Homo sapiens: one gene and its partner. The protein of the gene in region 1 purifies or fractionates together with the protein of each later gene. This does not show direct contact. Each region holds a gene or a part of one and is shown on either strand. Other genes may lie near its edges.

The links.
Region 2: the proteins of NAAA (region 1) and ERF purify together in Homo sapiens (affinity purification with mass spectrometry; 3 studies listed by BioGRID and IntAct, with this or other methods). This does not show direct contact.

What each region holds. Positions count from the first base shown.
Region 1 is NC_000004.12:75,912,851-75,917,095, forward strand, and holds the end of NAAA (N-acylethanolamine-hydrolyzing acid amidase isoform 1 precursor), read right to left. Parts: exon of another isoform or gene 3,700-4,245; coding exon of another isoform or gene 3,654-3,699; exon of another isoform or gene 3,588-3,653; intron 2,136-3,587; coding exon 2,054-2,135; 3' UTR 2,018-2,053; intron 1,489-2,017; coding exon of another isoform or gene 1,477-1,488; 3' UTR 810-1,476; downstream 1-809.
Region 2 is NC_000019.10:42,246,760-42,249,680, reverse strand, and holds the end of ERF (ETS domain-containing transcription factor ERF), read left to right. Parts: coding exon 1-1,216; 3' UTR 1,217-2,112; downstream 2,113-2,921. UniProt on the Homo sapiens protein: Potent transcriptional repressor that binds to the H1 element of the Ets2 promoter. May regulate other genes involved in cellular proliferation.

The DNA.
Region 1 (4,245 bases):
CTACTTCTCATATTTGATTTTTAAAAGGGCATTGGATGATGAAAATTAAACGGTATTTATACGACACTGTCCAAGAAGAAACACGAATATTCTGGGCCACTAGAGACGTCTGCAGTATGTCAGGGGAGCGATGTTCTGTACCTGGATAACACTTCCTTCTAGACATTCTACTCACTATGCCAAAGGAAAAGTTAAGCCTGGGAACCGAGACACTCCAAAACTGCCTTCCTTTTGTTCCCAAACATAGCTGTAATTTCACACGGTTGCTTTATCTTATGTAAAATGTAGATTTACTGAGCACGAGATAAATGCATCATTGACTTTCCCTCCATTCCCTTGTTTTCATGTGCTAAATGTAGATTCACTGAGCACCAATAATAAGAGCTCACAAGAATGTAACCATTTGCCTCACTGTCTACCCTCTTTTTATCCCCCGCTCCTGCTTGCTCTTTCCCCTTTAAATACCGAAGTTCCTCAAACCCTCTTTGGGAAAAGCACAGGACAGGTCCTCCTGTGACTGGTGTTTCTTTTTCCCGGGCACATCCTTAGCCTTGGCAAAATAACTCTCTCATGGACTGAGTGCTGCTTCAGGCACATTTTCGTTTACACTTTTAACCTTTTCTGACTTCATCCTCAAGGACATTTCTTTCATGCACATGTGAAAAATCAAACTCTACCAAGCAGCTGTTCATTCCCTTGAATGCTGACACTTAAATAACATCACAACTAAGAGAGTTGCTTTCTCAGGACAGCAGTTCAGAACCATAAGACTTCGGAGGTAAAGAAAGCAGGGAGAGCATAACGCTAAGTTTCTTGGAAATTTTTTTATTCTCCTTGCCAACATTTCTTTTGACATTTTATTACTTAATTATGTGACATTAAGAAATAATTTGGTTGCATATTATTTTCAAAAAGCAGTAAGAAAGTAGCTATTGAGAAAGAAGGAGGGCCATAGGTTTTTCAATAAAACGTTAGAAACATTATAAAAAACGAGACTCCCATTACATGGAAACACATGATCAAAGATCAGACTAACACACATTCAAACAGGCTTGGTTCGAAATAGAGTTCTCCATTTCTTTCAGATGAGCCTTTTTTCTTAGGCTCTTTCAGAAGCACTTCACAATGAACAGAGGTCTTGCCAGCTCATTTCATTAGCGGAGAAGCAAAGGTATGATGGCAGAATCATGAGAAGATGGAAATAAGGCCTGAGGATATGGCTTGATCTCTGAGACCAATTATCTTTGAGTTATTCAGGCCAGGATAGAAGCTTAGAGAGGATCGAGGCAAACCATGAAGGGAAGGGAATGCAGGACAATGCCCATTACTGGCTTTACCACAAACTCCAAATCTCCTGGACCCACTTCGCAAGGTTGTAAAGTTAAATGAGGAAGGAGCCTGCATTGTTTGTAACATAATACAATACTTTCACTTTGTCTTATTTTTTAAGGTGCAGCTCTTCAAGAATTTCATTTTTTAAAAAATCATCTGTAAGGGAAGAAAAAAACGCATTTAATTCAAAGACTGATTTTTTTTTTTTTTTTAATGGAGTCTCACTCTGTTTCCCAGGCTGGAGTGCAGTGGTGTGATCTCAGCTCACTACAAACTCCACCTCCCGAGTTCAAGTGATTCTCCTACCTCAGCTCCTGAGTAGTCGGGATTTTGGGTACCCACCACCACACCTGGCTAACAGTTTTTTTGTAGTTTTAGTAGAGATGGGGTTTCACCATGTTGGCCAGGCTGGTCTTGAACTCCTGACCTCAAGTGATCTGCCTGCCTCTGCCTCTCAAAGTGCTGAAATTACAGTCATGAGCCATCACGCCCCGCCGAAGATTGGTTTTCATACAAACAATTCCAAATAAAATATCTAATGATGACAATCTGACACAAATGACAATGCCAGATGCTTGTCAGAAAATATTATATATGTATACATTTTAAGGATGTTACCACCCTCTGTAAGAAATACCAGCACACACCCACCTCACCCCCTCTCCACAAAACAGTAACAACAAACCTTTCACAGCACGGGCGAACTCGCTCTTCTGCTGACTTACTTTCTACTCGGGTTTCTGATCCTAGTCATGTACTTGTCTGGGCTACCGGCGCTCATTACCGTAGTATAAATTGTGAAGCTGAAAATTATGAGGAAATTTTATGTACACATCATTTTCTCTAATATGCCAGAAAGGGAAGAAAATGACCAAGTGCTTCCCTAACACTTGAGATCTGGGACAAGGCCCTTTATGCCAGAATATTTTAAATCTATGAATCAAGAGGTCAAAGTGCACTTTCCTCCTATTTTGACAACACTGTGGAAGGCCAAGTTGGAACTTAAAATTCTCAGACTTAATTAGCTGGGTGTGGTGGTGCCTGAAATCCCAGCTACTAGGGAGGCTGAGGCAGGAGAATTGCTTAAACTTGGGAGGCAGAGGTTGCACTGAGCTGAGATTGCGCCACTGCACTCCAGCCTGGGCAACAGAGTGAGACTCTGTCTCATAAAAAATAAATAAATAAAATCTCAAGACTCCTCAGAGCTCTACCCCAAGGCAGTGGGGGAGACCAAGCCTTGGCCCTCACCCTGGCTCTGTCCTACCCACAAGGGCCTTACTTGCACACATGTGACATCACCGCCTTCACATTCCCCAGCAAGCACCTGCCCCTGTGCTCTCTCTCAGTGGCCATGCACCACCATCAGGAGAATATCACCCAGGGAAGAGGAAAACACAAACCCTGGAAGTGGAGGTGGGGCTGTTCAGGCTGAGAATTACAGGGTCCTGGGTACTTGGGCAGACTCCAGGTGGGCAAATGCCCTTGGTCCAGCAGATTCCTTACACCATGCTTTGGGGGGGTGGTATCACAACTAGAGGAATTCCAGAGGAGGGCCTCTAAAGCTCCAGGATCAAGGCACCTGCCCCGCCCCTCCACCTTGCCCAGATCTAAGGATGAAAAGTATAGTGTCATTGATTACACATTCCGTATAACAAGAGACCTAAACAACTTGAGCACATGTGCCCACATGTACACACATTTGTCTTGGAATCCAGTTGAGGTGCATGTGCAAAATATCGGAGCTGGGTTGTTCAGAAACAGGCAGAATTAGTAGCACTGGGTCCACAGCTAAATCATACACCCAGTTAAAGACAGCACTGTAAGCAAGTGCAGAGCTCGTCCAAGGGTAATGGAGGTTCCCTGAACAGGACCTTAATTGCTCGTTTACTTTAGTCATAGTTCTGCTCTCCATTACTGTTTTAGTATTTTCTCTACTGATGAGCCACAGCAGAGGATGGAGATGTATTGCAGGTGGGTGTAATTTTGCAGCATGGCACAAAGGGGCAGCATAGAGCTAACTGCCTTTGTTCAGACTACTTTTTTGTTGTTTCTTTTTCTTTTTTTCAGATACAGCTACACTTATTTCTATTAACCTAATACAACTGAACAGCCTCAGTTGAGGTTAATCATTACATGTAAAGGGCCTGAGAGTCAGAAGTCTGTGTTAATTCTGGCTCCATGGTGATTGTCACTTAAAAGCAGTTTCTCTTGAATTTTCAAGTATACAACAGAGAAAAACACTACTTGGTAAACTGTTTATAATTTCTAACAATTTTATTTTGACCAAACCATTTCAGAAACCATTTAAACATTCATAACTGTTAACTCAGTAATCCTACTTCTGGGAATTCAGCCAAGGGAAATAATCTGAAAGTAAGCAGGGGAGAGGCAAACGAATATGTTTATTTCAGAGTTTTAATAGAGGAAAATCTAACAACTGGAGAATGCTTAACTCAATTATAATACAGCCAACTGGCCACTGCCACCATGTAAAATTATGAGGGCTGTTCAAAGCAGAGAAAATGCTTTGTTTTATTAAAATAAATGTAACTATTTTATTATAATACTAATTTTTAAAAGATATATTCATCACTTCTTTTTTTTTTTTTTTTTTTTTTTTTTTAAGACGGAGTCTCCCTCTGTCGCCCAGGCTGGAGTGCAATCTCAGCTCACTGCAACCTCTGTCTCCCGGATTCGAGTGATTTTCCTGCCTCCACCTCCCAAGTAGCTGGGATTACAGGCACGCACCATGACGCCTGGCTAATTTTTGTATTTTTAGTAGAGATGAGGTTTCACCATGTTGGCCAGGCTGGTCTCGAACTCCTGACCTCAAGTGATCCACCCGCCTCGGCTTCCAAAGTACTAGGATTACAGATGTGAGCCACTGCGCCCAGCCAGATATATTCATCACTT
Region 2 (2,921 bases), on another chromosome or scaffold:
CCCTCCCTCAACGCCCTCCGAGGTGCTGTCCCCCACCGAGGACCCCCGCTCACCACCAGCCTGCTCTTCATCTTCATCTTCCCTCTTCTCGGCTGTGGTGGCCCGCCGCCTGGGCCGAGGCTCAGTCAGTGACTGTAGTGATGGCACGTCAGAGCTGGAGGAACCGCTGGGAGAGGATCCCCGCGCCCGACCACCCGGCCCTCCGGATCTGGGTGCCTTCCGAGGGCCCCCGCTGGCCCGCCTGCCCCATGACCCTGGTGTCTTCCGAGTCTATCCCCGGCCTCGGGGTGGCCCTGAACCCCTCAGCCCCTTCCCTGTGTCGCCTCTGGCCGGTCCTGGATCCCTGCTGCCCCCTCAGCTCTCCCCGGCTCTGCCCATGACGCCCACCCACCTGGCCTACACTCCCTCGCCCACGCTGAGCCCGATGTACCCCAGTGGTGGCGGGGGGCCCAGCGGCTCAGGGGGAGGCTCCCACTTCTCCTTCAGCCCTGAGGACATGAAACGGTACCTGCAGGCCCACACCCAAAGCGTCTACAACTACCACCTCAGCCCCCGCGCCTTCCTGCACTACCCTGGGCTGGTGGTGCCCCAGCCCCAGCGCCCTGACAAGTGCCCGCTGCCGCCCATGGCACCCGAGACCCCACCGGTCCCCTCCTCGGCCTCGTCATCCTCTTCTTCTTCTTCCTCCCCATTCAAGTTTAAGCTCCAGCCGCCCCCACTCGGACGCCGGCAGCGGGCAGCTGGGGAGAAGGCCGTAGCCGGTGCTGACAAGAGCGGTGGCAGTGCAGGCGGGCTGGCTGAGGGGGCAGGGGCGCTAGCCCCACCGCCCCCGCCACCACAGATCAAGGTGGAGCCCATCTCGGAAGGCGAGTCGGAGGAGGTAGAGGTGACTGACATCAGTGATGAGGATGAGGAAGACGGGGAGGTGTTCAAGACGCCCCGTGCCCCACCTGCACCCCCTAAGCCTGAGCCCGGCGAGGCACCCGGGGCATCCCAGTGCATGCCCCTCAAGCTACGCTTTAAGCGGCGCTGGAGTGAAGACTGTCGCCTCGAAGGGGGTGGGGGCCCCGCTGGGGGCTTTGAGGATGAGGGTGAGGACAAGAAGGTGCGTGGGGAGGGGCCTGGGGAGGCTGGGGGGCCCCTCACCCCAAGGCGGGTGAGCTCTGACCTCCAGCATGCCACGGCCCAGCTCTCCCTGGAGCACCGAGACTCCTGAGGGCTGTGGGCAGGGGACCTGTGTGCCCCGCACCCCCCATGCTTCTTTTGCTGCCTTAAGCCCCCTATGCCCTGGAGGTGAGGGCAGCTCTCTTGTCTCTTCCCTGCCTCCTCCCTTTTCCCTCCCCACATTTTGTATAAAACTTTAATTTCTTTTTTTTAAAAATGGTGGGGGTGGGTGGGTGCCCAGGGCTAGGGGCTATTCCCTGTCTCTGTGGGTTTCTAAGCTCTGGGCAAAGTGGTGGTAGGGGGAGGGAGGGGGAAGTTAAGGGGGTCACCTCCATTCTGGGGAATTTATATTTGAATTGAGGCTTTGGCCTTAACACCCAGGAACTTTTCTATTACAATCGCTTAGGAAGTAAAGCCTTGTCTCCCTCCCTGTTCTCTGCCTCTTGTACCCCTCTGACCCACCCGCTCTGCCCCACTCCCAGCCCTCCTCAGCCCCAGCCCTGCCTGCCCTGCCCCTCCAGGGGGCCATGAGTGCCTAGGTTTCTCATACCCCACAAGGTCACAGCAGGGGAGGGAGGGACAATTTTATAATGAACCAAAAATTCCATGTGTTGGGGGGTGGGGGGCGGAGGAGGGTGAGGGGTGCCGCCCATGGGCCACAAATCTCTACAAGTGCCTGCTATCCCTCTCCCACTCCCCACCCCAGCACCGGTCCAACCCCTTCATCCCCAGCTGCTCCTAGGACTGGCCCATGGGCAGGCGGGTGGGGGGATGGGAAGGGGGTGCCCTGAAACCAAACTGGAAGCCCCCTCTGCCTCCCAGCTGGGGCCTCTGGGGTGGGGTGGGGGGCTGTGGTCAAGCCTTATTCTGTATTGGGGACTGAGGGTGGGGGGAGTAGAGGGGCCGCTGGAGAATGTATTCAAAACAATAAAACTTTGGACCTTTGGATGCAGTGATCAATGTCCTAGGTGCTCGGTGCAGCCCCCTGAGGGCCACAGCTTTTGCTTGATTCTGAAGGAGGGGCCCCACCCTGGCTGCTAGTGGGTCTGTGGCCAGATCAGTATAGAGGGCCTAACCCTAATCAGAATGGGCCAAATCCAGGCCTGGGAAACCGTCTCCTGACCTCAGAGGCACATGAGCCCCAGAGCTTGATGATAGTGGTCTCAGGCATGCGCCGGCTTCATCAGACTGCTCCTCTGTTCCATGGGGACCTTGTCCTTGAAAGCTCTTCCCACTGTTTTTCACCACAACCCCACTGCCCTTGCTCTTCTGATTGCCTGGATGCCTTCCCACTTGTGGCTAGGAATTCTTCCCACACCCCAGGTCCCCAGTGAAGACCAGGAGCTCCCTTTTGCACTGCCCCTCGCACCCTGCCCACACCCCTCTCTTGTTGCTCTGAGTTCAGCTGGGAGTCCTTTGGAGAACAGCCTGTGGTGTCTCTTGAAATGTAGACCTTGCAAGGTAACTTGGTGATCTTCAGGTCCAGGTATGGGAACACCCCCAGCCAGCACACAGCCAAGGGACTGGCTCACTAGTCATCGATGCTGTTGACCTACTGTGTGTCCAATACTTAAGAGCTGCAGTGTTGTAGCTCCTTCAGTATCCAGTAAGGTAGGGGCAACCAGTGCTGCTAAGTGACTTGCCCAGGGCCCTGTGGCTGAGCCAGGACTTCAAAGCCCACGTTCTTTCAACAACTCCTGACTTTTCCTTCCTAACACCAAGATAGTTGGATCCAGATCAGGCTTTCAGGATCAGAG